4 linked regions of the Homo sapiens genome follow. The protein of the gene in region 4 purifies or fractionates together with the protein of the main gene of each other region. This does not show direct contact. Each region holds a gene or a part of one and is shown on either strand. Other genes may lie near its edges.

Region 1 (8,566 bases), on a different chromosome or scaffold from region 4:
AATGTATTCTTATCAACAAAGCCCTCTCCGACCACATTACATGAAACTGTAAGTCCCCTGCACCACCCACCCTGTCACTCCCAATCCCTTTTACCCTTATTTTTTTCCAAAGCACTTTTCACCATCTAAAAAGCTACATATTTATCGCGTCTCCAGCCTGTAAAAACAGAAGCTCTGTGTGGGCAGCAATTTCTTTGTTCACAGCTTTAGCCCCAGGATTTAGAACACTACATAGCTCATTATAAAAAAAAAAAGCCACTCAATAAATATTTACTTAAATGAAGGAACGAAAGAAAAAAGAGTGAAGGAGGAGGATGGCAGGAAGGTTCAAACTTCATACTCCCCATGTATACCTAAGTGCTGAATCAGTAGCATGCGCCGCTGTCGTAGTGATGACTGGAGACTGAGCTCTGGTGGCTGAGACAGTTGCTACCACAGCAGGAGGGATGGCATTGGAGGTGGTCACAGGTGGCCGAGACTACCAAAAGAGAAAAAACAGTTCATTTAAAACAAAAATAAAATAGAGGAAGTCAAATACTAAATGTGTAATTTGAAACTTGAGCCTACAGATAAGCATGTTTCTGCCCAAGTAAAAATAAATTCTCACCATTCCAATTAAGGAATTCTCTTTTCAGATAGGTTGTTATAAGACCAAGAGCCAGGCCGGGCACGGTGGCTCACGCCTGTAATTCCCAGCACTTTGGGAGGCTGAGGTGGGCAGATCAACTGAGATCAGGAGTTAAAAGACCAGCCTGGCTAACACAGTAAAACCCTGTCTTGACTAAAAATACAAAAAAAATTAGCCGGGTGTGGTGGCACGCGCCTGTAATCCCAGCTACTCAGGAGGTTGAGGCAGGAGAATCGCTTGAACCTGGGAGGCAGAGGTTGCAGTGAGCCAAGACCGCACCATTGCGCTCCAGCTTGAGCAACAAGAGAGAAACTGTCTTGAAAAAATAGAAAAGAAAAAAAAAAAAGACTAAGAGTCAGAATTATTAAAAAAAAAAAATCCCTTAAGATACCACTGACAAGTGTTTTGAAAAAAAAAAAAAAATCCCATTTTGATTGAACAGTACATGAGTCCCTCCTGTACAAATGTGATTGGAGTCAAAATTCTGCCCTACTATTGGTACCAATGGGATCTCACCCTTCAATCTAGAGTTGCCACAGGTCTGTTGTTGGTCCTGGTGTAGACATTTTACGCTGCCATCCAACCCAGCACCTCCACAGAGGGCCTACTCAGCTGCTGAATAGAGCTGTTGGCTCTCAGGCCATCTACGTTAGTGAGTACAAGGGCAACTCAAGGTAACAGTATTCTTTTCTAGGTAATCGTTCAGGGTGCCCATATCCTTTCTGGATGTTTTCACATGGACAGAGTGCCCTTATCACACTTACGTGTGAAATCTTCCTCTAAAAAATAAGCTCCACACTGGGCTTCATCCACATACCCACCATTATTCTTCGAATCACCTGAGTTCTGATTCTTCCCTTGCTCTTAACCCTGAAACATGCATCTAAATGGCCGAGCTCTGCCCATTCCTCATCCTTGCTTTTCATCTACAGCCCTTTTACCTGCCGCTTCTACCATGTGCAGGTGCGTGTCTCACACTAGGGCTACAGCACCAGCTTCCTCACTCGGGAGCTCCTTGTCTTGGTTCTCGTCTTCCTCCAACCCTTCATATGTATCACATATACTACTAGAGGCCTAATACTCCTCCGACTCTGTTTTCTTGGCCAGAAAAGTATTTATCTTGAAAGCTGTAGGCTAGACAGATACTACCCAGTATCATAATCAAGACTTCCTTATTATCTTAAACCCAGTTGTTTCATACATCTGTCTGTCCCCTGAAAGTGCTTAAGGGGACAGACCTCCTGTATGTGATTCAGCTAGATTAATCTTATCTTTCTTATTTTTTGTGAGATGGAGTCTCACTCTCTCGTCCCAGCTAGAGTGCAGTGGCACGATCTTGGCTCACTGCAACCTCTGCCTCTCGGACTCAAGTGATTCTCCCACCTCAGCCTCCCAGGTAGCTGGGATTACAGGCACGCACCACCATGCCCAGCTAATTTTTTGGCATTTTAGTAGAGACAGGGTTTCACCATGTTGCCCAAGGCGGTTTCAAACTCCTGATCTCAGACAATCCGCCCGCCTTGGCCTCCCAAAATGCTGGGAATTACAGGTGTGAGCCACTGCGCCTGGCCTAATCTCATCTTTCAACAGTATTACTTTAATGATACACAGAGCCATTGTGTTAAAAAGACAAAAATGATTTTTGGCCGGGCACAGTAGCTCACGCCTGTAATCCTAGCACTTCAGGAGGCCGAGGCAGGCAGATCACTTGAGGTCAGGAGTTCGAGACCAGCCTGGCCAACAGGGTGAAATCCTGTCTCTACTAAAAGTATAAAAATTAGCCGGGCATGGTGGTGCACACCTGTAGTCCCAAGTACTTGGAAGGCTGAGGCAGGAGAATCGCTTGAACCCAGGAAGCAGAGGTTGCAGTGAGCTGGGATCGCACCACTGCACTTCAGCCTGGGCAACAGAGTGAGACTGTCTCAAAAAACAAAAACAAATAAACAAAAAAACGCAGTGGCTCTCTACTGTATATAAAGTCTAGTTTATACTCCATATCCTAGAGAACCCAATTTATAGATACTATATTTCCTGCAAATATATTATACTTCAGTAATAATGAGGTCATAGATTTCCTTAAGAAAAAGCTGAATGGCATGGACCATGTTCTTGGAATATACATAGATATACACCTAACTTTTAGGAGTCCACAGATCCCCCCAATCCAAATTAAAATCCCTCAATCCTAGCTAGCCTTTACTAACTGCTGTCTACAACCATCACTCCCTTCCTTGCCACTGTTCATTTCCCCCTTCACTTCCTCTTCACTTCTCTGATTCCTCGTTAGCACAGCCTTTCCAACAGGAAGGCTTCCCACCATCTCTCCTCTGCATTCTTACAGCTTGCCACATGACACTGTGCATCTTTCAAACTTCCCTATGTCTTGGCAACTAGATGGAAAGTCCCTGAGGTCAAGGATGTGCCTAGTGCCTGGCAGAATGAATAACTCCAATGAGGCCCTTAATGCACCCCAGGCTCCGACGTGCCTGGATTGGTTGGTGAATGATGTGCTGTACTGCTGGCTGAGCAGTAGCAGCATTTGGCAGCTGTGAGGTCGGCCTCAGGACTGTGGTTACTTTAGAACTGGACATCACAGCAGCAGCAGCTGCACCTGAAAAAAAAAAAGTGTTTATTATATTTATTCTAGTTATATTCCCTGGGAAAATAATCAGTATGTTTCCCAAAACTCAGATAGCATGTCAATATCGAGCTGAAGTATGGTATGTATACTTCCCATTTCATCACAGAGAAAACAAAGAAAATGTGTATTCAAGAGATTTAATAATAATTTATATTGCCTCTTCACAGACAACCTTAAGTGAAACTAGCTGCTGTTTTTTGTTTCTGTTAACTGCAAGTGTGCACAGTGGTAAAGCACACAGGGAACAGCAGTGTGATGCCACTGCCTCAGCTCTGACGAGGCTCGGACACTTTGCCTTCCAGTCTTTGTTCCATTAGAGCAGACGTCGACATTGCCAAAGGGACACATTATGAACCTTAACCTTAAACCTAACCCTGCACTTTTCACCCTGCAGACCCCCATAAGGGCCTGTGAACCACATTTGGAGAACTGCTGAGTTATGCTATAACCAAGCAAACCTGGTCTTGCGTTTGCTAACTTGATTTTGCCAACAATCTCCAATTGTTGTAAAGTCTCCAATAAAAGGTAAAAATTTCTAGTCAAAATTCATTTATTACCTCACAACCTATTAGAACTTAAGGGTAAAAATAAATTAATCTTAGCCATGTGGTGGCTCACACCTGTAGTCCCAGCCACTCAGGAGGCTAAAGTGGGAAGATCGCTTGTGCCCCAGAAATCTGAAACCAGCCTGGGTAACCCAGTGAGGCCCCATCTCAAAAAATAATTATCATCATCATTTTATTGTTACATAAGTTAAAAAACTGAGTAAAGATCATCACTGAACTTTAAAAATATTCAGTATTAATATTTGTGACTTATGTATTAAAAATAAAGACCATGTTGCAGATAAGCAGTCTAATAATAAAGACCATGTTGAGATTATCAAAGCTTGGGCAGTTCCTCAATATATAGGACAATTTTAGACCATATTAAACACTTTAATTGCATAAATATACACACTTGTAATACAACTATAATAAGCACATATTAAACCATGCTAAAAACATGGATTGCTCTAAGTTTATTTCTACTGTCTTGCGATTTTTTTTCTTTTTCTTGAGACAGGTTCTCGCTCTGTCACCCAGGCTGGAGTGCAGCGGCGCAATCTCAACTCATTTCAACCTCTGCCTCCCGAGCTCAAGCCATCCTCCCATCTCAGCCTCCTGAGTGCCATCCTCCCATCTCAGCCTCCTGAGTGCCATCCTCCTATCTCAGCCTCCTGAGTGCCATCCTCCCATCTCAGCCTCCTGAGTGCCATCCTCCCATCTCAGCCTCCTGAGTAGATGGGACTACAGACGCATGCCACCACACCTGGCTAATTTTTTGTATTTTTGTAGAGACAGGGTTTCGCCATGTTGCCCAGGCTGGTCTCAAATTCCTGGACTCAAGTGAACCTACCACCTCAGCCTCCCAAAGTGTTGGGTTTATAGACATGAACCGCAGCACCTGGCCTTTTTTTCTTTTTAAATAAAAGAGGTTTATTTGGTTCACGGTTCTGCAGACTGTTGTTCTGCAACTTTAACAAGCTGATTCTAGATACATTCTGTGTTACGTATTTTACCAAATGTATATCTACTACTACATTTTGAGAGTTTGAACAAAACTTGCAAGTCGTTACCTCGAGGTAAATGAGAAGCTCCAATGTGAAGAGGGGGCCCAGGAGCATTGCTGCGGATGATAGACATTTGCACATTTGTAGTCATGATGTGATGCAGGTTACTGGGATGGCCCTGAAAGAAAGAGGATAGAACGTTATTTTTACATGTTTGCTCTTAGCCATTGCCTCTAGGAAGTCACCTGCCTCCAAATGTGGGTCAGGTTGTTTTTTAGATAGTGAGTATCCCAAGAGAAAGGGCTAAGGACATTCAGCTTGAGCTACTTTTACATGCCATACCGTACAATGAACTGTGCTAACAGGCATGTGAGAAGTATGAGGACCCCACAACTGCTGCAGGCCCACATAATTACAGATAATATACTTCGATATCTACGTTTAGAAACTCTCATCTGCGATATTACCTTTCACACTTGTTTTCCCTGTTCTGGCCAAATGCTTATTTTTTTTCCCATTCTCACTATTTCCTTTACATACCACTGCATCCATCCATTCTTTAAGCTTTTTTGTTTCTAAGTAAATGTCAGTTGGTATCCAACAGGTGCTCCCTACCAGTTCTTCAGCTCAACCCTGAAATGTCCCTTACATTCTCCCAAACCACAGAGTTCAGGGCTTCTCAGCTAAGGGTTCTGGTACTTCTGAGAGTACTCAGCAGTATGACAAAAGGAAAAAACACAGTACACCTCTTTGGGATATAAATTTTTCTTGAAAATGTGAAGGGAAAGTTTTTAGATTTAGTTTTTTTCCCCAGGTAAAAAATGTAAAATATTTAATTAATCAGGTACACAGCAGAGTAGGATTGCAAAATTTCACAAAAAAACCTTAAAACAGAAGACTTCAGAATAAATGTTCGCAACTAAGGCTGGGTGCGGTGGCTCATGCCTGTAATCCCAGCACTTTGGGAGGCCGAGGCGGGCAGATCATTTGAGGTCAGGAGTTGGAGACCAGCCTGGCCAACATGGTGAAACCCCGTCTCTATTAAAATAAAAAAATTAGCTGGGGGTGGTGGTGCCCGCTTGTAATCCTAGCTACTCGGGAGGCTGAGGCAAGAGAATGGCTCGAACACGGGACGTGGACGTTGCTGTGAGCCAAGACTGCACCACTACACTCCAGCTTGGGTGACACCGTGAGATTCTGTCTCAAAAAAAAAAAAAAAAAAGTTTGGAACTAGAGAGCTGCTTGAGGTAACCTATCCCAAGAGATGCACATCTGCTCTCCTCAGAGAAACCACAGAGCAGCACTGCCTACCCCCGGAAGGCAGTTCTTGACGCTAAAACCAAACACGAACCGGACTCCGGACTCCTCAAGGACACGGACTGTTTTATCTAGATTTATATATCACACTAGGGTCGAATCGAGCATCTAGTAGCTGCTCAATAAATTCTAGCTAAATGACCACTATGGACACTGGCTTCTACTCCCTTTACAGTTATCCTTCTCTCTCAAACCTACTATCTTCACTTGCAGGTATCAGTGACTGTTTGATCTTTTTTTATTACCGTGACTAATGTACTGCTAGCATTCAATAAATCATGATCAACAGTTTGGCATTTCAGTTTGAAAATCAGCAAATTAAAAGGAAGAAAAACCTGTTGTCCACTGATTGTTGCCACAGGAATGGCTGAAGCTTGAGGGATGCTACTCTCCATGGTAACGGTAACCTGCCCTGGAACCTTGGGGGGAAGTGACAGGGTAGAAGGTGGAGCAGGAGCAATGGGACGGCTAGGCATGGTGGGCTTCGGGGGCGGCTGCAAACAGAAAACCACACAAAACATATCAATGGCCTCATACTGGTGATGCATTTCAATCCACAATTAAGAGTGCACAAATCGAACCTGGAAAGTGCCAGGAAAGATGCCGTAAGCTTTATACATTTTATCTATTATCATCACAGTGTTTCCACTGAAGTACTAGCATTTCTATTTCACAGATAAAGAAACATACAAAGCAAGGCTAACTGACTTGCTCAAAGCCACACACACAGTAAGAAGTAGAACTGGGAATAAAGCCCAGAGCTGTATGGCTCACAGCCCACACCCTTTCTTCTACATGATGCTGCCTCCCAAGTTTGGGTGGATTGAACAAAACTCCCAGTAACTGAAACACAACCCCAAGGTAATACACAGGCAATATTCTCAGAAACCCCCAAATTAACCAGTTATTAAAACAAACCTTAAAGAAGAGTGCCACTCCACTTGGTCCCATGGTACTGGGTTATCTGAACTTATAACATTACTGTCAGCTGGGCACAGTGGCTCACGCCTGTAATCCCAGCAATCTGGGAAGCTAAGGCGGGCAGACCACTTGAGGCCAGGAGTTTGAGACCAGCCTGGCCGACATGGTGAAACGCCATCTCTACTAAAAATACAAAAATTAGCCAGGCGTAGTGACGTGCGCCTGTAATACCAGCTACTTGGGAGGCTGAGGCTGCAGAACCGCTTGAACCTTGGAGGTGGAAGTTGCAGTGAGCCAAGATCGCACCACTGCACTCCAGCCTGGATGACAGAGAAAGACTCCGTCTCAAATAAAAACAGAAACAAAACATTAATGTCATTAAGCCCCCACTGCTAAATCTGACTGGCTTAAAAAAAAAAGAGGGTCCCTTCAAGATTGTATCTAACTTAACATGCCCATAAGTTGAATAATATCAGTATCAAAATGGATAACAGCAAAGATCCTATGATGCCAACTGCCCAGCAGCACAAGACAAGGCACTGCAGAAAATCAGGGCTGAGTTACAGAAAGGAGCTGAACTCATATGTCATAAAGAAAAAATGAAATGTGATCCTAAGATACAGCCTAAGATTTTATACAAATTGTTACAAACATTAGCCAGTCTCGAGCTCTGGTTCAGTGTGAAGTTTTAACCCTCTCCATTACCTTCATAAGTCCCTCCGAAAATGAAAGTGGCACTGCTGGCGTCAGGTGTGCTGGCGGGGCTGTCACTGCAACAGGTGTGGCTGATGCGACAGCATGGTGTGTCGACAACATCTGCACCTGTGGATAGGGCCTTACCACAACAGGCTCTTGCTTCTCCTCCCGGGACTGGAGGGAGCTGCTGGAACTCATGTGCTCCCTGGCACTGACTTCAGAATCTCGACCAGATTCATCATTGACTAGTAAAGACATTAAGAGTGAGACAGTATGTCACAGTCTCCCAGTGTAAGATAGCAGCACAGACAAGAGTGGTACCTGAAGTTAAATCTCAGGATTGACAAAGTGGCCATTTCCTTGTGATGTTTTCTTAACAAGGTCAATATGGGCACTGGATTCTCCTGATGGACATCAGACAAAAGAGCCACAACTGTGGAATATAGAATTTATTCTGGATATTGTAGCCTTATGAACAAACTACCTGAAAATCATCTAAAATGAGCTGAAATAGTTAAAAGTACAATACAGGATGTAAGACAATTTCATTTAAAACATCCTCTTAGAAAGTTATAAAAGCCTGACATTAAAAAGATATTTTATGCTGGCCAACATGGCAAAACCCTATCTCTACTAAAAATACAAAAAAAAAAAAAAAAAACAAACCAAAAACCAAAAACCACGTTTTTTTGTAATCCCAGCTACTTGGGAGGCTAAGGTGGGAGGATCACCTGAGCCCAAAAGGCAGAGGTTGCAGTGAGCCAAGATTCCGTCACTGCACTCTAGCCTGGGCGAGAGAGGAAGATTGTCT
Region 2 (8,566 bases), on a different chromosome or scaffold from region 4:
ACGGGGTCTCCCTATGTCTAGACCAGGAAGTTTATCTAGAACTCCTGGGCTCAAATGATCCTCCTGCCTCGGCCTCCCAAACTGCTGGGATTACAAGTATGAGCCCACTATACCCAGCCAAAGCCTTGTGTTTTAAAAGTGTACTACTTTAATAAAAATAAAAATGTTTTAACAAGAAGGGCTAGACTGAATGCTTCTTGCTGAAGTGGTTATAAAAACTGTAATTATTCAGCCAGGCACGGTGGCTCACGCCTGTAATCCCAGCACTTTGGGAGGCCAAGGCGGGCGGATCACGAGGTCAGGAGATTGAGACCATCCTGGCTAACAGGGTGAAACCCCGTCTCTACTAAAAAATACAAAAAATTAGCCGGGCGTGGTGGTGGGCGCCTGTAGTCCCAGCTACGCGGGAGGCTGAGGCGGGAGAATGTCATGAACCCAGGAGGCGGAGCTTAGAGTGAGCCAAAATCGTGCTGCTGCACTCCAGCCTGGGTGACAGAGTGAGACTCCATCTCAAAAAAAAAAAAAAAAAACTAATTATTCATATAGAAGTCTATTAAATTACAGGCATTCCAAGTAATACTTTTTATTATCAAAAATAATAGGGAGAAAGATGAAGTGATTTAATCAAAACAGGAAACCATCATGCTGATGACTTAATGACTCAGAAGACTGAAAATTTGCTTCCCATCAAAAAGCAATGGGAATCATAGTATTTTCAAATCATATATAAAAAAAAAACTTAATAGATGCCAACAAACTGTCAGCCAAAAATAATCTTTTTTTTAAAAAAGGGCACACCTAACCTTAAAACATCTCAACTCTCAGTATTTTCTGCAGTTTTCAGCCCAAGCCTCTTGCTAGAATAAAATGTCATGTTAATGAAATAAATAGTCACCCAATGATAAAGGTCAGAATAAATTACCTTTGTGAAGAAGTATTGACTGGAAAGGAGATGAAACAACCCACTAGAGTGCTATAAAAATGTTATATATCTTGATCTGCGTGATGGCTACAAAACAGGTGTACACATATGAAAATTTATTGAACTGTACGCTTGAAATTTGTGCATTACACTGTAAGTTACACCTCAATGTAAAAGAAAAAAGTTAACGTGAGAAGCAGCAATCTCACAATGACATTTAGGGAACAAAGTATTATAAACTAAAATAACTACAAATCAAAGTTTGTCTGCCTTTTAGCTTTAAATCTCAGTTTTGCAAACATTCTCACAGGTTGGGGAAAGAGATGTCCATGAGGACTTAAAAAAACCCACAAAGACAAGATTCCAATAAACCGTCAGATAAGCACACTTAACCTTTAATCATAACATATTTTCAATAAGTTTTCTGAATATTTAAACAAAGTGTACTTTATTAGTAGTATGAACCTTAAAAGGAAATCAGCTTCTCAAGATGGAGTTAAACACTCTGGATGACCGTTATAAGGAGAATTGTGAACAACTAAGTATTCAGACTAGGTTACCTCTAAAAGCCCCTTCCCTATTTTGAAATCCTATGACTTTAGAAAACCAGAAAAGTGCAGCCGGGCACGGTGGCTTGCACCTGTAATCCCACCATTTTGGGAGGCCAAGATGGGAGATCACTTGAGATCAGGAGTTCGTGACTAGCTTGGCCAACATGACGAAACCCCGTCTCTACTAAAAATACAAACATTAGCCAGGCGTGGTGGTGTGCGCCTGTAGTCCCAGCTGCTTCTGAGGCTGAGTGAGGGGAATCGCTTGAACCCAGGAGGTGGGAGGTTGCAGTGAGCCGAGATCACGCCTCTAGCCTGGGTGATGGGGGAGACTCCGTCTCCAAAAAAAAAAAAAAAATGCAATTTAACTTACCATCAGATTAAACCTAAGGTTTACCTTTTAAATGGAAAATCACTGACAGAGAAAGTTTCAATAGATTACTACTCATACTATTAATACTTACTCTAGCAAATTCCTTAGGGTATTTATGAAAATAAAATAGAGATAAAGATTGGCCGGGCACAGTGGCTCACACCTGTAATCCCTACACTTTGGGAGGCCAAGGTGGGCAGATCATTTCAGGTCAGGAGTTCAAGGCCAGCCTGGCCAACATGGTAAAAACCCCATCTTTACTAAAAATATAAAAATTAGCTGGGTGTGGTGGCACACACCTTTAATCCCAGTCCCAGCTACTCAGAAGGCTGAGGCATGAGAATCGGTTGAACCTGGGAGATGGAGGTAGCAGTGAGCCAAGATTGTGCCACTGCACTCCAGTCTGGGCAAAAGAGTGAGACTCTGTCTAAAAAAAAAAAGTAGAAAGAGCTTCATTAAAGAGTACTACAACATATTGCTATTAATGATAAAATAATTTTTGAAAAAAAAATTTTTTTTTCAGACACAGTTTCACTCTTGTTGCCCAGGCTGGAGTGCAGTGGTACTATCTCAACTCACTGCAACCTCTGCCTCCCGGTTTCAAGTGATTTCCTACCTCAGCCTCCTGAGCAGATGGAATTACAGGTGCCCACCACCACACCTGGCTAATTTTTTGCATAATTAGTAGAGATAGGTTTTATTTTATTTTTTTTTTTTAGACGGAGTTGTGCCGCTCTTATTGCCCAGGCTGAAGTGCAATGGCGTGATCTCAGCTCACCACAACCTCCACCTCCCGGGTTCAAGCAATTCTCCTGCCTCGGCCTCCCAAGTAGCTGAGATTACAGGCATGTGCCACCACGTCCGGCTAATTTTGTATTTTTAGTAGAGACGAGGTTTCTCCATGTTGGTTGGGTTGGTCTCGAACTCCCGACCTCAAGTGATCCTCCTGCCTCAGCCTCCCAAAGTGCTGGGATTACAGGCATGAGCCACCGTGCCCGGCTGAGACAGGTTTTCATCATGTTGGCCAGGCTGGTCTCAAAAACTCCTGACCTCAGGTGATCCATCCGCCTCAGCCTTCCAAAGTGCTGGGATTACAGGCATGAGCCACAGTGCCGAGCCAATTTTTGAAATTTTTTTTGTATTTTATTCATACTACAGTCAAACACATTCAGAATCTTAAACAGCATCATACAGCAAAACTTAGTAGGTAAGTTTTGATTGAATAAAAATTTCAAAAAAGCATTCTTAAGATGAATTTTTATCCTAATAGTTCCCTATAAGAAGAAACCCACCACCCAAATTTAGCATAATTTGTTCTTTAGTACCATAGGTTTTCATATAACTATACTAGACAATTCTTGACACAGTGCTTACTTACTAACATCATTACCTGACTGATTAAAAAAAGTCTCAAGCTGTATTTTAGCGTAAGACCGTACTTCCCAAATTTTTTAGTAAGAGAATTTTGACCTGACACTAATTTTAAAATGTATCATAAAAGATAATTTAAATATGGTTACTCTGTTTTTTTGGAAACAGGGTCTTGCTCTGTCACTCAAGCTGGAATGCAGTGGTGTGATGACAGCTCACCGCAGTCTTGACCTCCTGGGCTCAAGCAATCCTCCTGCCTCAGCCTCTTGATTAGCTGGGACTCCAGGAGTCCACCACCATGCCAGGATTATTTATTTTTTAATTTTTTGTAGAGATGGAGTCTCACTATGTTGCCTAGCCTGGTCTCGAACTCCTAGGTTCAAGCAATCCTTCCACCTCAGCCTCCCAAAGTGCTGGGATTATAGGTATGAGCCACCACATGCCACGAATTATTCTCATGTTTTTCCTTACAAGTGAAATCTTCCTGGCCACGCATGGTGGCTCACGCCTGTAATCCCAACACTCTGGGAGGCTGAGGCGGGTGGATCATCTGAGGTCAGGAGTTCGAGTCCAGCCTAACCAACATGGAGAAACCCTGTCTCTACTAACAATACAAAATTAGCCAGGTGTGGTGGCAGGCACCTGTAATCCCAGGTATTTGGGAGGCCAAGGCAGGAGAATCACTTGAACCCGGGAGGCTGAGGCAGAAGAATCACTTGAACCCGGGAGGTGGAGGCTGCAGTGAGCCGAGATGGCACCACTGCACTCCAGCCTGGGCAACAAGGGCGTGACTCCATTTCAAAAAAAAAAAAAAGTGAAATCTTCTAAAAGTAACTGCAATTTAAATAAGAATAAATTTTTATTTCAAAATAGTATATAAATTATAAGATATGAAAGGCCACAAGAAGAAGTTGTTTTACAAAATTCCCAGATAATTAAGCAATAATAAATTTGTATTATTGTAGTAACAAAACATATTTTAGCCGGGCGCGGTGGCTCACGCCTGTAATCTATAATCCCAGCACTTTGGGAGATCAAGGTGAGCGGATCACGAGGTCAGAAGTTCGAGACCAGCCTGACTAAGATAGTGAAACCCCATCTCTACTAAAAAATACAAAATTAGCCTGGTGTGTTGGCACATGCCTGTAATCCCAGCTACTCGGGAGGCTGAGGAAGGAGAATTGCTTGACCCTGGGAGGCAGAGGTTGCAGTGAGCCAAGATCAGGCCATTGCACTCCAGCCTGGACACAAGAGCAAAACTCCATCTCAAAAAAAAGAGAAAAAAACATATCTCAAGGTTATTATAATCTCAGCTTGCAGGTCAGTTAGTTTTTTTTTTTCACATTAGGGAATATAATGTTAAAAAATTAACACAATTTCAGCAAAAACTTGTCTAAACTCTTCACCCTTAAGTTTCTGAGCTGTTTGGTCATCCTACTGAATAATGATGGCCTCAGTCAGCCATTAACACTACATACACGTATTAACAAAACTAATATATACCACACATAAGAATGCTGAGAAACATGAGTTTCTTTAATATGCCAAATTTTCTCTTTTTTTTTTTTGAGACAGGGTCTAACTCCTGTGGCCAAGGCTGAGGTGCAGTGGCGCAATCACAGCTCACTGCAGCCTTGACTTTCCGGACTCATGTGATCCTCCCACCTTAGCCTCCTGAGTGGTTGAGACTACAGGTGTGCACCACCATGCCCAGTTAGCTTTTCTGTATTTTTAGTAGACATAGGGTTTCACCATGTTGCCTGGGCTAGTCTCTAACTCCTAGGCTCAAGTGATCCTCCCACCTCAACCTCCTAAAGTGCTGGGATTACAGGCATGAGCCACCGTGCCTGGCCCAAATTTTCAATTAAGTAACAAAAAAAAAGATGACAAGCTCAACACAGAACATTGTACACTCAGCACAAGATAACATTAGCAGGCTAGAGTAATTTATTTTGCATATTGTATATCACAGAGCCTGATAAATATTAATATTTAGTAATTAAATATTGATCTCAACAAATATAAAATAAGTTTTAAAGATAACTTTGAGAACTGTCATTTCCATTTATTCAAATGTGCATTTCATTGTCCTTTTTTTTTTTGAGACCGAGTTTTGCTCTTGTTGCCCAGGCTGTAGTACAATGGCGCGATCTCAGCTCACCACAACCTCCGCCTCCTGGGTTCAAGCAATTCTCCTGCCTCAACCTCCCGAGTAGCTGGGATTACAGGCATGCGCCACCATACCCAGCTAGTGCATTTCATTGTCAAACAAATCCTCTATTGGAAGCAATGTTTCCTACCAAATCTATTTGATATTCCTAAATTCACAAGCCTGTGCTCTAATTTCTAAACCAGTATGAGCCTCACCTTGCTCAAAGCATACAGATCCAGGATTTTTCTCTCTACCACAGGGATCTTCAGAGTAGATCCTTGAAGTTCCCAAAATTTTGCTAGTTGATCCAAGAAATCCAATCTCACTCTGGTCATTGCCTAAGATTATTAAAATACAGAAGAACTAAGTTATGATTGAAATGAATAAGAATAACAGAGCAGGGGTCCCCAAACCCCAGGATGTGGACCAGTACCCATCAGCGGCCTGTTAGGAACCCAGCCACACAGCAGGAGGTGAGCAGCGGCAGTGGGCAACCAACCGGGCAAGCATTACCACAAACCCTATTGTGAACTGCGTGTGAGGGATTTAGGTTGTGAGCACCTTTTGAGAATCTAAGTAATGCTTGATGATCTGAGGTGGAACAGTTTCATCCCAAAACCATCCTCCATACCCCCATCCATCCATGGATAAACTGTCTTCCATGAAACCAGTCCTTGGTGCCAAAAAGGTTTGGGACAGCTGTAATAGAGGTACTCATTTCTCTAAAGAAATTCAAAGACTTTTTTTCATTATTGCTTATTTCAACCCTGTAAAACTAGCCAATAGTAAAACTAGCCAATAATAAAGAGGCAAAAGACTTCTAATAAACTATATTTATTCAGGCAAAAAAGTTACTCTGATTTATGTAAAAAGTTGTCATATTAGCAACCAAAACAATTTTTGTAAGTTGGTTTAACTCTATGCTGATCAGAAAATTCAGTAGATCGGATTCTCTTCAGTCTCTAACGTTCTGTCATTTCATCCATATGTAACATGCACACTTTAGGTGCATCAACTCTATACCTCACTGATACTAATATGCTTTGTCAAGTATCTAATTACAAGAGACTAAAAAGAAAAAATATGCATTGCGGCCAGGCGCGGTAGCTCACGCCTGTAATCCCAGCACTTTGGGAGGCCAAGGCGGGCAGATCACCTGAGGTCAGGAGTTCCAGACCAGCCTGGCCAACACGGCAAAACTCCGTCTCTACTAAAAATACAAAAATTAGCTGGGCATGGTCGCTGTAATCCCAGCCACTAGGGAGGCTAAGGCAGGAGAATCGCTTGAACCCGGGAGGTAGAGGTTGCAGTGAGCCGAGATCGCACCACTGCACTCCAGCCTGGGTGACAGAGCAAGACTCTCTGGAAAAAAAAAAAAAAAAAAAGTATGTATTAAACTCTCAGAAATGTTTTGGGGAGAAAAGAAAAAAAACTTCAGAATGACATAATAAACCTTTGCTATCAATAATTTTCCTTCTGTACTCTAAAAGTTTTCATATCACAATGAAGAACCTTCTGAAAACCCATAAACAGAAAAAACAGCAAAACGTACACTTCCATTTAGAAAATTTAAGATAAATTAGTAATACTTAAAGTAATTAAAAAATAATACTTAAAGTAATTAAAAAGTAATACTTAAAATCTTAATAAATCAGATTAACACTCCTGGCAAAGTTCCATTAAAACCAAAACCAAAACCAAACCAAAACAAAACAAACTCTGAAAACTAGGGTTTTAAAATAGGATTTAAAAATCCATTTTCCAAGAACCGAGGGAGAAAGAAATCTTCCAAGATTAACAAAAATTTTAGTAGAGTAAGAAACACTAGAGAAAGTAGAATTTAAGAATTCTAAGTCTCTGAAGCTAAGCATTGAACATTTCTCAGTTAAATGGAAAAACCATAACAACTTTGCACAGTTTTTAAAAAATCATACTCTTCCTCCAAACATCAAGTAACTATTCCATTCAATACCAATTAACACAAACTCTAGGCTGTGGTACATGAGCTTCTCAAAGTTCTCTACCTACAGCCCTAATATAAAGAATGAATCAGGAAGCAGAAATAGTGACAAAACACTTACCTCAAGTTCATTCAGGCGCTGGACTCTTGGAGTGAAACGAAAGCTTTTTACTTCACAGGCAAATGGAGGCTGCCAGTCCTAAATAGAAAGATTTTTTTAAAAAAACACAGTGGTATGTAAACAAGGAATGCATTAATTATTCCCTTAAAGGGGGGTTTTGCCACAAATCATGGTGCTAATAGACTAACTTACAAGTCTTCTTTATTATAGAGACAGAATGAGCAATTCTTTTCGATAAAATAATTTTAATACAGGTTGAGTATCCCTCATCTGAAATGCTTGGAACCAGAAGTGTTTTGGATTTCAGATTTTTCCATATTTTGGAATATCTGCATATACATAATGAGATATCTTGGAGAAAGAACCAAGCCTAAATACAAAATTCTTTTGTTTCATATAAAGTTATACATAGGCTAAGGTAATTTTATGCAATATTTTTAATAATCTGGTGCATAACGCTTGTGTATACTGGACCGTCAGAAAAGAAAGGTGTCAGTAGCTCAGCCACCAGTGTGGACAATTTGTGGTTGTCTGGCATCACCATCATTCCTGACTGTGAATTTACATGCTACCAATAAACAATCATTTCCTTACACTTATTTCCACTTAAGTAGTTAACAGAAAAAATATACCATACCATTAATACAATGAAAAAAATAATCTGTTCAAGCTGGGTGCAGTAGCTCATACCTGTAATCCCAGCACATTGGGAGACTGAGGCAGGAGGATCGCTTGAGCCCAGGAGCTTAAGACCAGCCCAGGCAACAGAGCGAGACCCTATCTCTATAAAAGAAAAAGAAAAAGAATAATTCAGATTTTGGATGATTTCGGATTTGGAATTTTTAAAGTAGGGATGGATGCTCAACCTGTATTGCTCAGAGAAGCAATCCTCTTCAAACCAGTCCCACCGTTTACCTCCCACAATTATGCTTTCCCAAGTTACTCAAGTGGAATTCAATGAGGTCATGTACCACAAAACAGTATCTAGTAAACATTCAGGTTTACCAAGATCAAAAAAAAAAAACTTGTGTTTAAACTAAAAAGGGTAAAATTTAAGATTAAAAAGAAACTTTTAAGAACTTATTTATTTAAACGATTTTTTTTATGTTATGTGTA
Region 3 (4,660 bases), on a different chromosome or scaffold from region 4:
GTCCACATTTTAAATCCTCTTAGCATGGATTCTTAGAAATGAAATTACTGGATCAAGAAGTACTTTTAATACTTTTAAGATTATAGATACATATTGCTATTCTAAAAAGCTATGTTAATTTACATTGGCCACCAGCTGGATAGGGTGTCCCTCTGTGCCTCTGAGGTGGTCCCTAGTGGTCTCTGCCCTTGGAATTCACGCCCTTGTGTGGTCCTGTGTTCACACTGTACCAGAGTTGGTCTGTGTGACCCAACAGCATATGGCAGAAGTGCTGGTATGTCCCTTCTTTCAGATTAGGTTATAGAAAAGATGGTGGCTTCCATCTTGGGTGCAACTGCCCTTGCGTCTTTCTGTCACGGACCATTTGCTGTGAGCAAACCTGTGGAGGCCCACAGAGAGGAATGGAAGCTTCCTGCCAACAGCCACATGAGGGAGCTGTTTCTCCCATTTTATTCTTTGCTTTTCAATTTAGTATATAAACTTTAAAAATAATCCAATCTATCTTTCCCTATGTGATCTCTTTCATTACTTTTTGATTTAAAAAATGTATCAAAGCACTACATATTCATAGCAAAAAGATGGCCAAATAATTCTAAACAGTTTATAATGAGAAACAGTAGTTCCTTGCCTTCTCTTTCAGAGTCTCAGCAACTGTTATCAGCCAGAATTCGATCAGAGAAACAGAACCACTAGGAGCGATATAGAAAAGGAATCTATAAAGGAAACTTTACCTTACACAATTGTTGGAGCTTGCTGAACACTCTGTGTAAGGCTGTTGCTTCTGTGTTTGGTGTTGGGGCCTTAAGTCAGCAGCGCAGGCAGTCTGGAAGGGAAGACAGATTTCAAGTGGAGGACAGGAAAGAAAAACTTGAACCTACATCAGTCTCTTACCCTCGCCAAACCTCCAATTCAGATGATACAGGCACCCTGCAGAAGAAGCTGGTGACCTTTACCACAGAGCTAAGCATGCGCCTGGCCCAGGAGTGGCTGAAGCTGAAGGAAGTCACTCCCAAGTTCTTTCCTAGAATCATGATGTGAATATAGGAAAATAATGAAATCACTGACTTTATTTTCTCAGCTGGTCATTCACTCCCTTTCAAGGGTTTAAGAACTACTATTTATAAAATATTCTAGATATGTATAGACTAAAAGCCAGCGGTTGTTCACCACCAGTTGGGCACTTATGCAAACAAACGTGTGTGTGTGTGTGTGCTTATTGTAAAAAATTTGGAAAATACTGCTTGTTAGAGAAAATTTGGAAAATACTGCGAAGTATAAAGCTGAAAAAAGTAGCTGCAGAAAACCTCTGTTGACATGTTAAAATTCTGGAGGAATTTCCGTCTTTTTTTTTTTTTTTTTTTTTTTGAGAGAAGGTCTCACTTCTATCACCCAGGCTGGAGTGGTGGCACAATCATGGGTCACTGCAGCTCAAGTGATCCTCCACCTCAGCCTCTTAAAGTGCTGGGATTACAGGCATGAGCTACTGTGCCTGGGCTCCTTCCATCTTTTATAAAAGATGCTTCTTGTTTGCAGAATTGCTATCATACAGTTCTACATTCTGCTTTTTTCTCTTATTTATTGTGAACCTTTCCGCTACTACGAGCAATCTTCCTTGTGGGTCACCATTAAGAGGTGCTTAAATAAATTACTGTGCATTTATGCATCTGACCCAATAATTAATGGCCCACCTCTTGTGGGTCATTTGGGTTCCTTCTCTTGGCACAGACCTTCTCCTGGCTTATATTTCTTGGGTGTAGGAGGTATACCCTCCTACCAAAGGTATGGCTCACACACCTGGTATGAAGTAAACAGCACAGTTCTTCAAACATCCCCAGGGCAGCCAGACAAAATCCACAAAAATGCCTCTCCCTTTTCTGGGCATGACAGAAACTTCATTCTAAGCGTGTGCAATGTTTATATGTAGACACAACACACATGCATGTGTATAAAGCAAATAAATACATTTCCCTCTATTGTTCATTTGATTTCACCTACTTACGGCTGAAGTGGAAAACTTATTAGGCCTGGAAAAGCCTTTCACAGCCAGGAACTGGAATGGTTTGGGATAATTTCCTTCAAATACTCATATTAAGCTTTATTTGTGTTAAGAGAACTATTTAAAACTCATCTTAAAAACATCTTGTTTAAAACAATCTTAAAAACAATCTAATACTAACCCAGAATGTAACAATCTAAATTTTACTTGACTATTCACAATAGAATTTAAAAGTTTCAGCCAAAGTTAATATGAATTAATAACTAAAATATCAACAAGCATTTTAGTTAACAGTATCTAACTCAGACCCTACAATCAGCATCTCCCATAAGCAAGAACCGGGGTTAGGTTATGTGGAAGTTACAAAGATGAGTAAATAAAACACAGCATCCCTGTCATCCCAGGACCAAAGGGATAGGAGTGAGGATGATGGAAGTAGAAACTTAAATGTGATGACAATAGGATAGAGATTGATTCCAAAAAGGCATGGGAATCTGGAAAGTTCTCAAAGAAAGAATCCGAAGGTGTTAAGAAAGGCCTTTGGAAGGTAGAATTGGAGAGAACAGTATGAACAAGGACTCAGAGCCAGAAAAATTGGGCGGGCATACAGGGGAAAGATTTTAGTGGTAATGAGGAAACAAGGCTGGGAACACAGACCAGGGCCATATCAGGTCCGGCCTCAGCAGGAGAAATATAAGCAATGGGAACCATCACACTGGGTGAAATTCAATCTTTATTTTAAAAGATGGTACACAACCATCTGCCAATTTATAAACAGATGATCAATTTATAGATTTTTAAAAGTCTACATTTTAATAAATGTTTTACATTGTGTTCATTTTATTAGCCATTTTTTGATTTTCCTAAAATCTGTTACTTATTAATGATGAATCTACTCCAAAATCTTTTTTTTTTTTTTTTGGAGATGGAGTCATGCCGTCACCCAGACTGGAGTGCAGTGGCGCGATCTCGGCTCACTGCAGTCTCTGCCTCCTGAGTTCCAGCGATTCTCCTGCCTCAGCCTCCCGAGTAGACTAGCTGGGATTATAGGCGCACGCCACCACGCCCAGCTAATTTTTGTATTTTTAGTAGAGACGGGGTTTCATGTTGACCAGGCTGGTCTCGAACTCCTGACCTCAGGTGATCCGCCTGCCTCAGCCTTCCAAAGTGCTGGGATTACAGGCGTGAGCCACTGTGCCCGGCCTCTACTCCAAATTCTAAGTACGATACTGTTTTGGTTTTAAATACCATTTTTGGTTAAAGAGCCCCATTTAAATTGTTTAAATGAAATAAATACATCCAAAGTAAATGCACGGTGAAAAATACATTTTAATCCAAAAGTTTTGAATATTGGCACTTAGAAAGTTATTTACAATCAATTTTACTATACCCTTTGTGAATAAAGAGATAATTATGTACGTGTAGCTACCTATAGTTGTTTCTTTCCAACTCAAACACCATAACTATGTGGAAAAAGGGTAAGAGTTAAAGCTGCTGCAGCTCAAAATCATTACAATCAACTTAGATTCTGCAAATTTTCCCAGGGTTGAAAAATGCTGGTTAAATCAGGACAAAAGAGGAGGCAAGTGAGTACACCCCACTCCTCTCCCATTTTACGTGTTGCTCCCTTACTTAACCGGCAAAGACCTGCACCTGAATTCTAGACAATTTCATATACAACAGGCCTCTTATTATGGGTCCATAGCAGATGGTTTAGGGTAGATGTTTTAAAGATATCAATGCTAATGGCCTACCAATGACTTTCATGACCTCCCAATATTCGTTTTAATGGTAGTCAAGAGACTATCAAGCAGGAAGCCTGATCTCGACATGTTTCCTCTGCGGCTTTGGTGAAGCTGACTATCTGCAGTATAAAATCTTATGGTTTGATCGAAGTCTCATTTTTGACTAGAAACAGTAAAGAGCAGCTTTATTAAGATCAATGGAATGGTTCTGAATGCCTGTTTCTACAGAAGGATTAAATTAAAATTTTTTCTTTTTTTTCTTTTTTGAGACAGTCTTGCTCTATCACCCAGGCTGGAGTGCAGTGGCACGATCTCGGCTTACTGCAATCTCCACCTCCCGAGTTCAAGCAATTCTCCTGCCTCAGCCTCCCGAGTAGCTGGGATTACAGGCATGCACCATAACACCCAACTAATTTTTGTATATTTAGTAGAGACAGGGTTTCATCATGTTGGCCAGGCTGGTCCTGAACTCCTGACCTCAAGTGATCCATCCACTCAGGCCTCCCAAAGTGCCGGGATTACAGGCATGAGCCACCGCACGTGGCCTAGATGAAAGTTTTTAAAAGCCTGGGCTAATAAAATCATCCACCAATCATTTTTCTTATGGTTAAAGCAGCCAAAAAGCTGTCACAGCATTTTTGAGATGAGAACATAAGGCTTGTGTGGCTTTATGATAGATGCTGTTAGTCATTTTATTTGATTAAGCCCTTGGTCAGTCATCTATACCTTAATTAATATTTTGTTCTTATAGAAAAATACAATCCATTTTATGAGTTTCTAGAAATAAATAATGGAGAAAAATAGATACTACCTGTTCCTAATGGTCTCTCTGGAAATTACAGCTTTTGCCTAGGAAGATACACATATAGAATATAATTTAAGTTCAAAATATATTTCATTATATTCTATCCCTTTTAAT
Region 4 (8,566 bases):
GAGGCCAGGAGGCCAAGGTCAAGGTGCCAGGAGGTTTGGTTTTCTCTAAGGACTCTCTCCTTGGCTTGTGGGTGGCCACTGTCTGTGTCCTCATGTGGTCTTCTCTCTGTGCACGCATGTCCCTGATGTGTGTCCCAATCTCCTCTCTTATAAGGACACCAATCAGACTGGATTAGGGCCTACCCTAACGGCCTCAGTTAAATCACCTCTTCAAAGGCTCCATCTCCAAATACAGTCACGTTCTGAGGCGCTGGGGCTAGGGCTAAAATACATGAATTTGGGGTGGAATGTGGGGTGGGGGGATGACACAATTCTGCCCAGAACAATGGGTACAGAGACAATTCTAGAAAGTCTCAGCTGAGAAAAGCAGAAATACAAGACGCAGAGCAGCCACGATTCTAAAACAATTTCTCCTTGGTGGCGGGATTTGTTCTTTTTGTTTTGAGATGGAGTCTTGCTCTGTCTCCCAGGCTGGAGTGCAGTGGTATGATCCCGGCTCACTGCAACCTTTGCCTCCCGGGTTCAAGTGATTCTCCTGAGTAGCTGGGATCACAGGTGCCGTGCGACCACGCTGGCTAATTTTTCTATTTTTAGTAGAGATGGGGTTTCACCATATTGGCCAGGCTGGTCTCGCTTGACCTCAAGTGATCTGCCCACCTTGGCCTCCCAAAGTGCTGAGATTACAGGCGTAAACCACTGCGCCCAGTCAGTGGCGGGGTTTGTTGTAAGATTCTCTGGGGATGTCCGGAATGATTCTCTGCTCAGGCTCACAGGGGGCTGCGTCTGTTTCTCCATGGTGCACAGGTTTGATGGCAGAAGGGGTCGGAACGAGCAGGGTGTGGGTATGTAGGGAAGCAGCATGGAGCCAAGGTCTGTTTCAGAGGCAGCTGTAGGCTCACTGCGAGCCCCCCACCATTCCAAGGAGGCATTTCCAAGCTCCGCATGCACCCTCTGATCCCCTAAAGTGTGCCACTGCGACAAAATGGGGAACCACGCTCTAGACCAGGGCTTGGCAAAAAGAGCCAGATGGGACGGTACAGCCACCACGAGGGACAGTGTGGCAGTTACCTCAACAGGTTGACCATGGAATTATTGCTACCATATGACCTGGTAATCCCACTCCCAGGTCTATAACCAAGAGAACTGAAAAAAGGTGCTCAGGCCAGGGACAGTGGCTCAGGCCAGGCGCAGTGGCTCACACCTGTAATTCTAGCACTTTGGGAGGTTGAGGTGGACAGATCCCTTGAAGTCAGGAGTTTGAGACGAGCCTGGCCAACATTGCAAAACCCCGTCTCCACTAAAAATACAAAAATTAGCCAGGTGTGGTGGTGTGCACCTATAGACCCAGCTACTTGGGAGGCTGAGGAGGAAGAATTGCTTGAACCCAGGGGGTTGTGGTGAGCCGACAATGCACCACCGCACTCCAGCCTGGGAAACAAAAGCAAAACCCCATCTCAAAAAAAAAAAAAAAAAAAAGCCAGGCGCGGTGGCTGGAACCTGTAATCCCAGCACTTTGGGAGGCCAAGGATGGCGGATCACGAGGTCAGGAGTTCAAGACTAGCCTGGCCAACATGGTGAAACCCTATCTCTACTAAAAATGCAAAAAAATTAGCCAGGCGTGGTGGTGGGAACTTGTAATCCCGGCTACTTGGAAGGCTGAAGCAGGAGAATTGCTTGAACCTGAGAAGCAGAAGTTTTAGTGAGCTGAGACCCCGCCACTGCACTCCAGCCTGGGCGACAGAGCGAGACTCTGTCTCGAAAAAAAAAGAAAAAGAAAACACGTGTTCCAACACATCCTCACACATGAATGTTCGTTGCAGCACTATGCACAACAGCCAAAAGGTGGAAACAGGCCAAACATCCATCAACAGAAGAGTGGGCATGCGAAATGTGGTCCTGCCATACAGTGGAGAATGATTCAGTCTTAAGGAAGGAAGCACTGATACCGGCTCCGATGTGAATGACCCCGGAAAACACGATGCTGAGTGAGAAGCCAGACACCAACAGCCACACGGTGTATGACCCCACTGATATGAAATGTCCATACGGGCAAATCCATAAAGACAGGAAGCAGACTCATGGTTGCCAGGGGCTTGGGGAGAGGAGAATTAGGAGGTTCAGGGTTTGATCCTGGGGTGATGTTAATGTTCTGGAATTAGTGGTGATGGTTGTACAGTATTGTGAATATACTAACACTTTAAAATGATGATGATTTTATGTTATGTGAACAGTATCACAATATGAAACATTTTTAAAAATTTAATCCTTTGAAAATGTAAAAATCACAACCAATCACACCGAGCCAGGCTGGCTTTGGTCTCCAAGCTACCATTTGCCGACTGTGCTGCTCTAAACCACCCAGCACAAGCCCAGTTTTCTTTTTCTTCCGGCACCTCCTCTCTCCCCGTGCCCTGGGTGGCCTCATCAGGCAGAGTTCGAACTGCCTCCCACACCATGACAACCATCCTGCGTGGCCGACACGTCCATCTGAGCATCCACACACAGCCCCGCCTGGGTACTGATTAACAGAGCCTCAAATGGCAGGCACCGCACAGACACATAGCAGCCCCCCAACTGCCCTGGCCTTATGCACCTCAGCAGGGGCCCACACTTTTACCCAGAGAATCAGGCATCCTGAGATCAGCCCAGACTTCTCACTCTCACTGACACCCCCGCTCCTGATCTACATCATCATCCACTCTGCCCCCATCACATGGGAACCCCCTCTGGTCCTTGTCACCAGTCACTCTGTCCCCATCACTCAGGGCACTTCTCTGGTCCTTATCACTGTCCACTCCGTCCCCATCACTCGGGGGATCCCTCTCCAGTCCTTGTTACCATCCACTCTGTCCTCATCACTGTCTACTCAGTCCCCATCACTTGGGGACTGTCTCTGGTCCTTGTCACCATCCACTCTGTCGCCATTGCTGTCCACCTCTGTCCCCATCACTCGGGAGGCCTTCCCTACTCCTTGTTACCATCCATTCTGTCCTCATCACTTGGGAATTGTCTCTGGTCCTTGTCACCATCCTCTCTGTTCCCATCACTTGGGACCCTCTCTGGTCCTTGTCACCATCCACTCTGTTTCCATCACTGTCTACCCCGCCTCCATCACTTGGGGCCCCTCCCTGGTCTCCCAGGGGCCTCCTGACCCCTCATTCTCAGCACAGCAGCAGAACCGCCTCCCAGAACCATCCAGTGGTTCTCACGCTCCTGGCTCCCTCTCCCCCTTCTCTCCTTCAGCTCCTGACCCTGCCGTTCTCCTTGGCTGTTCCTCAAGCACACCCACTCACTCTCACCTCAGGCCATCACTCCCCACCAGGAACAGTCCCTCATGAAACAGGTCCTGCCCACAGCAACCTCCTCCCACCCTTCCCTGGCCTGCTCCATCCTCTCTCTGCCCTCTCCCATGCGCCACCCGCATCTGCCCATCTGTTTCTCATCGGACCCCCCACCTTGACTGTGCAGGAACCCTGAAAGCAGGGCCTCTGAATAAACCCCAGGGCCTGGCTCGGAGAAGGGGTCACCGCCTGCTCCATGAGCCAAGAAGATACAAACACAAGAATCGACTTGTTGACAACTAGCGGGACTTCCCCCAGAGAACAGCCAGGGGGCTCCCTTTGAATGTCGAGGGGCTGCTTAAGTTAGGAGCTGCACGTTAAGGGGTTATCTCTGTCTCTGTCCAAGCCAGCTGTCATCTTCCACGAGGCAGGGTCTGCCCTGAAGAGGACCCGCTAGCTGAGAGCGGCCATGTTCCCACCAGCATCCAGTTTCTCATTCCTGCACCATGCACTGCTCCCTGGCGACGTTCCAGAAGGTGGATACAGTCATGAACAAGACAGTGCAGGGCCCACCTCATCTTAAGGACTCACCGTCAACCAAGGAAGGAAAACCAATAAGAAACAATGCATTCTGAACTTCTTTTCCTAGCCGTTTTGAAATACATAACCCAGGGTGGTGTAAGAATGACACAGGGTAGGGACTAGGGGGCTCTCTGTGGAGCTGACATTACAACCAAGGCCTGAATTACCAGACAGTAAATGATGCTGACTCAGGAGGCCAAGGCAAGGCTCCAGTAAGAAGCTGTTCCTTCCTCCAAATTCCCCAGGTCGTCACTGGCCACACACCACGGCCTGTGTCTGTCTTCCCCTTTAGACTCGTGTTCTCAACCTGAGCAACTCTGCCACCCAGGGGACACTCGGCAACACGGGAGACACTTTAGGTTATCACATCTAGAAGCATCTGGTGGGTGGAGGCCAGGGAGGCTGCTCAAATACCCTTCAGTGTGCAGGACGGCACCTCGCCATAAAGAACAGTCTGGCCCCCAAAGCTGAAGACACCCTGCGCCAAAGGCTGCCCGAGGCTGGGACTCTCTTATTCACCTTCCTTACCACCTATGGGCCACTCCCTACTTGTCAGTAGCTGGCAGGCTTTGTGATAAAATTGGGGGGGGAAAAAGATACTTCAAAACAGTCAAACTAGAAAAACTAAGCAACAGAGAATACTGGCCAGGCGTGGTGGGTCACACCTGTAATCCCAAAACTTTGGGAGGCCAAGGCAGGAGGATCACTTGAGTCCAGCCTGGACAACATGGTGAAACCCTGTCTCTGTTTTAAAAATGTAAAAAAGGCCAGGCACAGTGGCTAACGCCTGTAATCTCAACACTTTGGGAGGCTGAGGTGGGGGATCACTTGAGGTCAGGGGTTCGAGACCAGCCTGGCCAACATGGTGAAAACCTGTCTCTACTAAAAATACAAAAATTAGCTGGGTGTGGTGGCACATGCCTGTAATAGCAGCTACTTGGGAGGCTGAGGCAGGAGAATGACTTGAACCTCAGAGGCGGAGGCTGCAGTGAGCTGAGATCACGCCATTGTACTCTAGCCTGGGTGACAGTGAAATGGTGTCTCAAAATTAAAAAATAATTCAATTAAAGTAAAAAAAAAAAAAAAAAGAACTTTGGGAGGCCGAGGTGGGCAGATCATGAGGTCAGGGGATTTCGAAACCAGCCTGACCAACATGGTGAAATCCCATCTCTACTAAAAATACAAAAATTAGCTGATAGTGGTGGCAGGCACCTGTAATCCCAGCTACTCAGGAGGCTGAGGCAGGAGAATCACTTGAACCCGGGAGGCAGAGGATGCAGCGAGCCAAGATCGTGCCATTGCACTCCAGCCTGGGCAACACAGCGAGACTCTGTCTCAAAAAAAAAAAAAAAAAAGATGGCCAGGTGCAGTGGCTCATGCCTGTAATCCCAGTACTTTGGGAGGCCGAGGCAGGCAGATCACGTGAGGTCGGGAGTTCAAGACCAGCCTGACCAATATGGAGAAACCCCGTCTCTACTAAAAATACAAAATTAGTCGGGCGCGCTGGTGCATGCCTGTAATCCCAGTTACTCAGGAGGCTGAGGGAGGAGAATCGCTTGAACTGGGGAGGCAGAGGATGCGGTGAGTCGAGATTGTGTCATTGCACTCCAGCGTGGGTAAAGAGCGAAACTCTGAAACTCTGTCACAAAAAAAAAAAAAAAGAAAGAAAAGAAAGAAAGAAAGAATATCACCAGGGCCTCTGTGTGTGGGAAACCCTGTGAGGCTTTCAGACGATGGCCTCTCAAAGGACTCCAGGGAGCCGAAAGCTCAAAGGACTCCTGAAGCCACGCGAGTCATGGCCTGGACCTGGGATATCTCTCATGTTTCTGTCCTGAAGCCACACAAACAACAGCCCAGACTGCTGGGAAACAGGGCTGGAAACCTGACAGCACCTGTGTCAATATCAACTGGAAGCCAGTGGGCTCCCAGGGGCCCCCGAAGAGAACAAACTTCTACACCTAAGCCTGGAAATGACTGTTCCCAGGCTGCAGCACGATGACCAAGGCCCTGCTGAGTAGCTACTAAGTGAAAGTTCTTTTCAAGCCTTTCCCCAAGTCGATGGGTCTGCACCGTCATCATTGTCACCTAAGCCACCTACGGGGAGACAAGACTGCCAGCCCTCCACGGTTGGGGACCCGCAGCTACTTAAAGGAAGAGCCAACTCCAAATACAACCAGTGTGGCGCCTGTCAAGATCTAGCCCTGAAAGCCGAGTTACTCCACGGGCAGGGACTCTGCTGAAAGGCAATTTCCACATGCAGGACGCACAGTTCACATCTTTTCACTCTGGCTCTTTCTGAGTGAGTGACAGGAACGAGACCCAGAGTTTCCACAGCATTCAGGCTCTGCAAAGTGCTCTGGTGGACGCTGCTATTGCAAATGAGCTTGGCTTTCTCCCGCAGTCGTGACTGTTCTGGAGATCAGTCTTGCTAAGGCTTTCATGGTCTAAGACACAAGCAGTACATCTGGATCCTGGGGCTTCATTTGCAAACAGGAAATGGAAGGCTCTTCAGAGTTCAGTGGCCACACGCTTCCAAGTTCCCCTTTAAAGCTGAGATTCAGCTGGGTGCGGTGGCTCACACCTGTAATCCCAGCACTTTGGGAGGCAGAGGTGGGCGAATCACGGGGTCAGGAGTTCGAGACCAGCCTGACCAACATGGCGAAACCCCCATCTCCACTAAAAATACAAAAAAATTAGCCGGGCATGATGAAGCGTGCCTGTAATCCCAGCTACTCAGCACGCTGAGGCAGGAGAATCTCTTGAACCCAGGAGGTGGAGGTTGCAGGGAGCCGAGATTGCGCCACTGAACTCCAGCCTGGGTGACAGAGCGAGACTCCTTCTCAAAAAAGGCAAAAAAAAAACCCTGAGACTCGCTCCTTGGCTTTCAGGAGACAACAGGCTGATGGCAGAGAGGGTCTTGCACAGAGAAGCAGCAGAATTTTTTTTTTTTTTGAGACGGAGTCTTGCTCTGTCACCCAGGCTACAGTGCAGTGGCACAATCTCTGCTCACTGCAACCTCCGCCTCCCAGGTTCAAGCAATTCTCATGCCTCAGCCTCCCAAGTAGCTGGGATTACAGGCATGCTCCACTGCGCCTGGCTGATTTTTGTACTTTTAGTAGAGACAGGGTTTCACCATGATGGCCAGGCTGGTCTTGAACTCCTGACCTTGTAATCTACCCATCTCGGCCCCCCAAAGTGCTGGGATTACAGGCGTGAGCCACTGCGCCTGGCCGAGAAGCAGCAGAATTGACACACACCTTGCACATGGAATTAATACAAAAGCACTGCCACATTACCCTTCGCTGTTCTCTTTCCAACTGACTGCGGAGTGTCAGATCCCTAATTGATTGGACGCTCTATCATCTCTTCCATCAAAGAAGACCTACCAAGTGCTTCCAGCAGTAGATTCTGACACTCCCTGCTAAAACTCTCGAGGCAAGGACTGGAGGAGGTTGGGAGAGCTGGTCCACTTACACCGGTGGTTCTCAACAGGGGCACTTTTGCCCCCCAGGGAGACACCTGGCAATGTCTGGAGACATTTCTGGCTGTCAGAACTGAGTGAAGGTCTGGTAGGTACACGCTACAGATCCTGCTAAACACCCCACAATGCACTGGGAAGCCCCCAACAGCAAAGAATTATGCCTTAAATGGGAAATAGTGTTGAGGTGGAAAAAATGACAATGGTCATCTTATAAAAGGAAATCTTAAGTAGGCTTTCTTTTTCTCAGAGGCGCTAGTAAGCTCAAGCATGAAGAGACTGCAGAGATAGAAGGGGCAGTGAGCCAGGCACAGTGGCTCACTCCTGTAATCCCAGCACTGTGGGAGGCCAAGGTGGGCACATCGCTTGAGGCCAGGAGATCGAGACCAACCCTGGGCAACATAGTGAGACCCTGTCGCTACAAAAAAAATAAATAAATTAGCTGGCCGTGGTGGTGCACGCCTGTAGTCCTAGCTACTTAGGAGGCTGAGACGGGAGGATCACTTGAGCCCAGGAGGTTGAGGCTGCAGTGAGATATGATGGCACCACTGCACTCCAGCCTGGGCAACAGAGTGAGAACCTGTCTTAAAAAAAAAAAAAAAAAAGGAGGCTGGGCACGGTGGCTCACGCCTGTAATCCTAGCACTTTGGGAAGCTGAAGCAGGCAGATCACTTGAGGTCAGGAGCTCAAGAACAGCCTGGCCAACATGAAGAAACCCCATCTCTACTAAAAATACAAAAATTAGCTAAGCATGGTGGTGCACACCTGTAATCCCAGCTACTCGGGAGGCTGAGGCAGGAGAATTGCTTGAACCTGGGAGGCGGAGGTTGCACTGAGCTGAGATTGCGCCACTGCACTCCAGCCTGGGTGACAGAGCCAGACTCCGTCTCCAAAAAAAAAAAAAAAAAAAAAAAGAGGGCCAGCACCTATCACCCAAGAAAAAAGGGACCAAAGCAAAGCCAGGAGTCCCAGCTGAGCTAATGATCCTATCAACAATTAAATGAAACACAGCCAACATAAACGTGGCTACTCACACACCATCTCGACCACTTTATTTTGTAGGTGGTACTGAGAGTGATCAGAGGCAGACGAGGACATGCTTAAATACAAGGGCAAGCCTGCCTGGTATGCTCGCTGGGAAAGCCTCAAGCCAAGACCTCAGCAACTGCTGAGGTGGTTATTTAGACTTCACACAAAATTCTGCGTTAGGAGGATACCTCCCTGA

What was found.
Region 1: the proteins of SIN3B (region 4) and SAP130 purify together in Homo sapiens (affinity purification with mass spectrometry; 3 studies listed by BioGRID and IntAct, with this or other methods). This does not show direct contact.
Region 2: the proteins of SIN3B (region 4) and KDM5A purify together in Homo sapiens (affinity purification with mass spectrometry; 4 studies listed by BioGRID and IntAct, with this or other methods). This does not show direct contact.
Region 3: the proteins of SIN3B (region 4) and GATAD1 purify together in Homo sapiens (affinity purification with mass spectrometry; 5 studies listed by BioGRID and IntAct, with this or other methods). This does not show direct contact.

What each region holds. Positions count from the first base shown.
Region 1 is NC_000002.12:128,009,916-128,018,481, forward strand, and holds part of SAP130 (histone deacetylase complex subunit SAP130), read right to left. Parts: intron 8,001-8,566; coding exon 7,765-8,000; intron 6,633-7,764; coding exon 6,474-6,632; intron 5,000-6,473; coding exon 4,888-4,999; intron 3,240-4,887; coding exon 3,115-3,239; intron 479-3,114; coding exon 354-478; intron 1-353. UniProt on the Homo sapiens protein: Acts as a transcriptional repressor. May function in the assembly and/or enzymatic activity of the mSin3A corepressor complex or in mediating interactions between the complex and other regulatory complexes.
Region 2 is NC_000012.12:378,447-387,012, forward strand, and holds part of KDM5A (lysine-specific demethylase 5A), read right to left. Parts: intron 7,529-8,566; coding exon 7,451-7,528; intron 5,708-7,450; coding exon 5,585-5,707; intron 1-5,584. UniProt on the Homo sapiens protein: Histone demethylase that specifically demethylates 'Lys-4' of histone H3, thereby playing a central role in histone code. Does not demethylate histone H3 'Lys-9', H3 'Lys-27', H3 'Lys-36', H3 'Lys-79' or H4 'Lys-20'.
Region 3 is NC_000007.14:92,457,482-92,462,141, reverse strand, and holds the end of GATAD1 (GATA zinc finger domain-containing protein 1), read right to left. Parts: 3' UTR 2,067-4,660; downstream 1-2,066. UniProt on the Homo sapiens protein: Component of some chromatin complex recruited to chromatin sites methylated 'Lys-4' of histone H3 (H3K4me), with a preference for trimethylated form (H3K4me3).
Region 4 is NC_000019.10:16,831,881-16,840,446, reverse strand, and holds part of SIN3B (paired amphipathic helix protein Sin3b), read right to left. Parts: intron 1-8,566.